Linked DNA regions of Homo sapiens: region 1 is linked to region 2. Evidence: fine-mapped expression QTL. A gene starts in region 2. The other region holds a variant in brackets. All regions are shown on one strand. Distances are from middle to middle.

Region 1 (2,908 bases), 27 kb before region 2:
GGGGCAGTAGAGGTACTGATATGGGTGATACTGGAGGAAGAGGTTTGGAGAGTGAGGGAAAGACATATTTGAATATGGACAAGGTAAGTTTGAGGTTTGACAGCAACATGAGATCTTGAGTAGCTGTCTGGGTGCTGAGTGTGGAACTTGGAAGACAGGACTCAGCATAACAAAATGACTACTTTATGGGCCAACCTACATGGTCAACCACGTTTTGTGCTGAGACCCTAAATCTGAAATCAGAGGCAGCCTTTAAGCCATAAAATAAGTGGGAAAAAGCCATCTCAAATGGAGCAAGCCTTTTAGGAATCGCTCATTCCAAGGCACCTGGAAGAATGAAAGAGGGGAATGTCCCAGGACCTGGGCAGCACAGAGCTTTATCGCAGCTGAGTCCAAGGCCTTGGTGGTGGACCTGCAGGGATCACTGAGAACAGCTCCAAGCTTCAAGAGCACCCAGAGCGCCCAAGAAAGCAGATGTCAGGGTTCATAGTCCTGTGGGTTGCTGGGATAGTCCTGCTCAGAGCAGACAGGAGGAAGAAGGGATGGAGGGGTTGAGGGAGAGGGGCACATCTTACCCATCTCTGTGTCCCTGGAGCCCAGCCCAGTGCTGGAACCCATCAGAAACTCAAAACTGGTGCAACAAATGGAATTAAGTAATATCAGCCTAAGATCTACCATTATCTCACCAAGTGACTTCAGCTAAGTAATTTTCACCTCCCTAAGTCTCAGTCTCCCCATTTGTAGAAATGAAGGGTGACAATAATTACTATGGTAAGTATTTCCCCACACCAACATAAAGTGAGACAGTACCCAGAAACTCACCAAATGAAGCCTTATGAACAAATATAAGTGATTAAAGATAACCCGTGTTGTTTCGCCTCAAATGTACCCAGGTAGAAACATGTTTGTGGCTAATGAGCAGTGGCAGCTCTCTCACTGATGTTCTACCTGATTCTAAACCCTAAGAACATATTTTCCCCCCTGGAGGGCAATAAAGCTGTTCCGCCATAAGAATCTATTTTTCCCGGACCAGCTCTCCCATAAACAGTGTTCATCACTACTCCAATACCTAGGCTGCTGGGTGAGAATCAGGTCTTCCCCATCCAGCCCAGCTGAGCACCAGCAAGTCTAGACCTTCCTGGATCTGGGACTGTCACAGCGAGTGAGGCTGGACTGGGGGGATCATCGGTTTTGGTAATCACTGGTGCGGGTCACCAGATGTTCCCAGCTGTCCCTCTTCTCAGGCACCTAGTAGGATTCTATGTCCCCACCCACCAACCTTTGACGTTGACCTGCTTTGCCTAGTGACTCATGAGCAGGATGACAGGGCTGCTCTGATACACACAGGAAATCCCTGTCCCTGCTAAGCAACGCACAAAGCCCAGATGGTGCTGCTTCTTCTGCATATGGGTCCTGGAAGTGGGGAAAGCATGTCAGGGCCCCAGCTGCCCCACGGTGGATGAGGAGCACCAGCAAGAAATGGACCTTGTGGTTTCCAGCCCCTGAGAGTTGGGGGCTGTTTGTAATGATAGGCTAACCTTGTCCTGACCACACCCTCTCCCTACCACTCCCTGTCCCCAATATCTGCATCCAGCTCTT[G/T]TTAAGGCAGAGCCCTGGAGGGGACTTCCAGTTCCAGTTCTGATATGGCAACAGGCAAATGCAAGTGAACGAGGCGTGGTTCTAACATGACAATCTGATCACTGTGTATCCCTTCCCTGCTTAAACATCATTCTATGGCTCCCTATGGCCCTCACCACAAAGCCCTCTCACGATCCACTCTTGCTAACATCTCTAGTTCACATCTTCCTAATTCCATACTTTGCACTCTCAGATGCAGCTGCAAGGAACTGCTTGCAGTGGGCACACTCCTGCCTCCAGCCTCTGGTTCTGCCTGCTGAGAGCCCCTTCCTCTCACCACACCTCTCCTCTTCCTCCACAACTGCTATCCTTCACCTGGACCCCTCCTATGCATTCCCCAGGTTCAATGCCATTTCTACGATTCCTTCTGAAAACCCCAGCCAGGTGGCCCTCATCTCACAGCAGCACCATAGCCTATTCTTTCATCTGCCTGACCTATGAGACTGTGTCTTTTGATTCCCCCTGCGCAGCCCAGTGTTAGGCACATAAATGCTCAAAAACAAGTTTATTTTAATAAAAGGAAAGAGTCCAGGCGCAGTGGTTCACGCCTGTAATCCCAGCACTTTGGGAGACTGAGGCAGGCTGATCACGAGGTCAGGAGTTTGAGACCAGCCTGGCCAACATGGTGAAACCCCGTCTCTACTAAAAATACAAATAATAATAATAATAAATAAAAATTAGCCAGGCATGGTGCTGGGTGCCTGTAATCTCAGCTACTTGGGAGGCAAGGCAGGAGAATCGCTTGAACCCAGGAGGCGGAGGTTGCAGTGAGCCGAGATCACACCACTGCACTCCAGGCTGGGCGACAGAGCAAGACTCTGTCTCAAAAAAAAAATAAAAATAAAAAATAAAATAAATAAAAAGAAACAAAGAAGGAAGAGAGGGAGGAAAGACACCGAGAGGACAAGCATGGTCTCCTTTCACTCACCTGTACTGCTCTTTGGCCTGCATAATGACAAAGTCCCACTTATAGTTCATTTTTTGGTTCAAGAAATTGTAATTTTCCTAAAGAAGAAAAACAAAATGAGAACAGAAAGCCCCAAGACATATGCCATGTGCCGCAGGGCAACAAACTCTAAGTCAGCAAGGGCACACCCCTGGCTCATGGCAACCATGGACCCAGCCCGATGGTATCTAAGCTGGTTTTACCATGGTGTTCACTCAAGGAGCAGCTGAATTCTCAAAACACTTTCACAAGAAGCCTCACTTTTATTGGTTTTCTTTGCTTTTGTAAAAATAAATGTATCCCGGCCAGGCGTGGTGGCTCACA
Region 2 (2,908 bases):
CTACCCGGAAGATGAGCACGAGCATCTTGAAACAGGTGGACCAAATGCGACCGTCTCGGGGTCCCCAGGACTGTCCAGGTTTTAGCATTGAAAGTCCTGGGCAAATCAGGACAGCGGTCACTGACTATACAAATTTGCTGAGCTCCAGGGGCTCAGGGAGAGCTCAGCTTGTCACAAAACATTCAACTAATTCTACTCAACAAGATAAGCCTAAGAAGATGGACACTACGCTGTGAAAAGTGGCTACGGGTGGGAGGAAGGACAAAGATGTGACCCGGGACCTAATCCTCTGTAGATCTCATCGGACAGTGATTATACCAGAAGCTCAGAACTAAATGAACCACTTTGTCCCCAAACACATCACCCCACAGGTGCATTCCACCTCCCACATGTCCATCCTGTGTGCACACCCTGTGCCCGGTCACTTTGTCTGGGAAAGCATTCGCAAGGGAAGCGAAAAGGTTGGGACTTCTGCCGCCAGCGCAGACAGCAGGAGATGCACAGATAGACACACTCAAATGAGGGCTCTCAGGGCATTGTAAATGGGGTGGCCCTTTATCCTACAAATCACCCCGTTTTCATGGTCTATGTGTACACACACACACACTTTAAAATAGTGCAGTTTGGGATCAGAAAAAAAAGGCAAAAATGGCAATGTCACATCTGGTCGTCTTACAACAATATCAGCAGGCTGTCTCAAATCTGCCACAGCCTGAACTGAACCTGCCTCTCCCGAGTAACAGGTTGTTTTCACCTCCCGCAGACCATCAGCGCTGGCTTCAGATTCTCCACTACAGGCAGGGCACACGAAAACCTAATTATTATAGCCATCAATATCGACACACACAGCAAAGAAGTCACTTAATAAAATCGAGCAGCACAAATCGACCCAAAGGGGTGCTCTCCACTCCTGCCCCTCTTGTCCTCGGACGCTTCGCAGATGCGGTCCCCCGCCCTCCTCCCAGGGTCCAGGTGAGGGGCCAGGGTTACCTTTTGGAGAAATGCCATCCTCGGCCTGTACTGCTGGCCTTGGTGTCGGATTGTCATCCTGGCCCCTGGATGGATTCACAGCCAGAGCACCAGTGGGAGACAAGAGGAGAAGCCCCCCAAGTTCGAAAGGCAGCCTGGCTCGCCCCAGCCCTGGGCGTCGACGGGGAGGCGGCTGGGCGGGGAGGGCGCGGGCCGGGCCCCCCTGACTCTCACTAGGCGCCGCTGACTTGGAAAGCAGCTGGAATCCGCGCCAGCCAATCCGCGAGCGGCGCCGCGGGCTCATTAGCATGCGCTGCGCGGGCGCCCACCTGCCGCCAGGGGGCGCTATCCGGCCCCCGCCGGGACCCCGCGGAGCAGCAGGTGAGACCCGCAGGGCAGGGCCCCGGGAGGAGAAGGAGGAGGAGGACCTGGCGGGAGGAGGAGGAGGACCTAGCGGGAGGAGGAGGAGGACCTGTCGAGAGCAGCGAGCCTTTTAACTTGGGGCGGAGTTATGCACAGAAGTGACACAAAGAGCCCTCACTAATACAGCGCGGTGGAAAATACGGACTTTCCCATCCCAGCTCTGCCACTAACCAGCCGGCAGCCTTGGGCAAGTTCCTTACAATCTCTAAGAATCAATGTCCTTCACTCAAAAGTAAAAATTGAAAAATGGGATCATAATATCGACCAGAAAAGGTTGCTATACCATTTTAATGAGGAGATGTGTAACACAGTGCTTGGCCCTCAATAAATGCTTAGAAAAAAAAATTAGAGGTGGCGATTTAATGACCCAATAGCAGAGGAATTGCTAAGATGTGGGTTTAAAAAGAGAGAGCAAAGAAGTGAAGAAGGAAGAGAGGAAGGTTGTAGTCCTCACCGGGCTAGCTGTCTGGATGAAGCGAATTATATTTTACTTCTCTGATTCTTAGTGTTTCGGTTAGTTGGTTGTTGGGTTTGTTGTTGTTTAACTTTTTTTTTGAGACAGGGTCTTGCTCTGTCACCCAGGCTGGAGTGCAGTGGCGTAATCATGGCTCATTGCAGCTACAACCTCCCAGGCTCAAACAATCCTCCCACCTCAGCCTCCCCAGTAGCTGGGGCTACAGGCACGTGCCACCACACCCCGCTAATTTTTACAAAAATTGTTTGTGGAGAGGGAGTTTCACAAACTCCTGGGCTCAATCGATCTACCCACCTCGGCCTCCCAAAGTGCTGGAATTACAGGAGTGAGCCACTGCAGCTGGCTGGTTTGCTTGTTTTAATAGACTTTATTTCTTAGAGCAGTTTTAGGTTCACAGCACAATTGAGCGGAAGGTATAGGGACACGTCATATATCCCCTCTCCCCACGCACGCACAGCGTCCCCCATGATCAACATCCTCCACTGGAGTGGCCCATTTGTTACAATTGATGAACCTACCTTGACAGCTCATTATGTTAGCGTTTTCATCTTGAGAAAAATGCAAGGATGAAGCCTCTAAGTTATTATCAAGAGCCTTTCTGCTTTGTTATATAAAGCACTTTCTCTTAAACATACTCGATGGTTATTGAGTGTAGCAGATAAAATGTTTAAGTTGGAAGAAAACAAGAAGGCCTTTACCTTAGGAAGGCACAGTCAACCAATGTCCCTTTAAAGCAGTGGTTCTTGGCTGGGTGTGATGGCTCACGCCTATAATTCCAGCACTTTGGGAGGCCCAAGCGGGTGAATCACTTGAAGTCAGGAGTTCAAGACCAGCCTGGCCAACATGGCAAAACCCTATCTCTATTAAAAATACAGAAATCAATCAGCATGGTGGAGCAACCTGTAATCCCAGCTACTCAGGAGGCTGAGGCACAAGAATCACTTGAACCCAGAGGCTGCAGTGAGCCAAGACTGAGCCACTGCATTCCAGCCTGGGTGACAGAGTGAGACTCTGTCTCAAAAAAAAAAAAAAGCAGTGGTT

Evidence for each region. PIP is the estimated chance that this variant, and not a neighbour inherited with it, causes the effect.
Region 1: its variant is fine-mapped to the expression of RGS9 in unexposed skin (GTEx, PIP 0.98).

The regions. Positions count from the first base shown.
Region 1 is chr17:65,162,748-65,165,655 of GRCh38, reverse strand. It overlaps RGS9 (regulator of G protein signaling 9), which reads right to left. Exons shown (of 19, transcript NM_003835.4): 7 at 2,567-2,643. Among named protein-coding and RNA genes, the nearest start is that of RGS9, 27 kb to the right of the region's middle. RefSeq lists enhancers at 1-512, 1,542-1,741 and a silencer at 1,192-1,251. The variant G/T (reference allele first, on the strand shown) is at 1,600.
Region 2 is chr17:65,135,680-65,138,587 of GRCh38, reverse strand. It overlaps RGS9 (regulator of G protein signaling 9), which reads right to left and starts at 1,218. Exons shown (of 19, transcript NM_003835.4): 1 at 991-1,218. The coding sequence starts at 1,047. RefSeq lists a silencer at 1,029-1,528.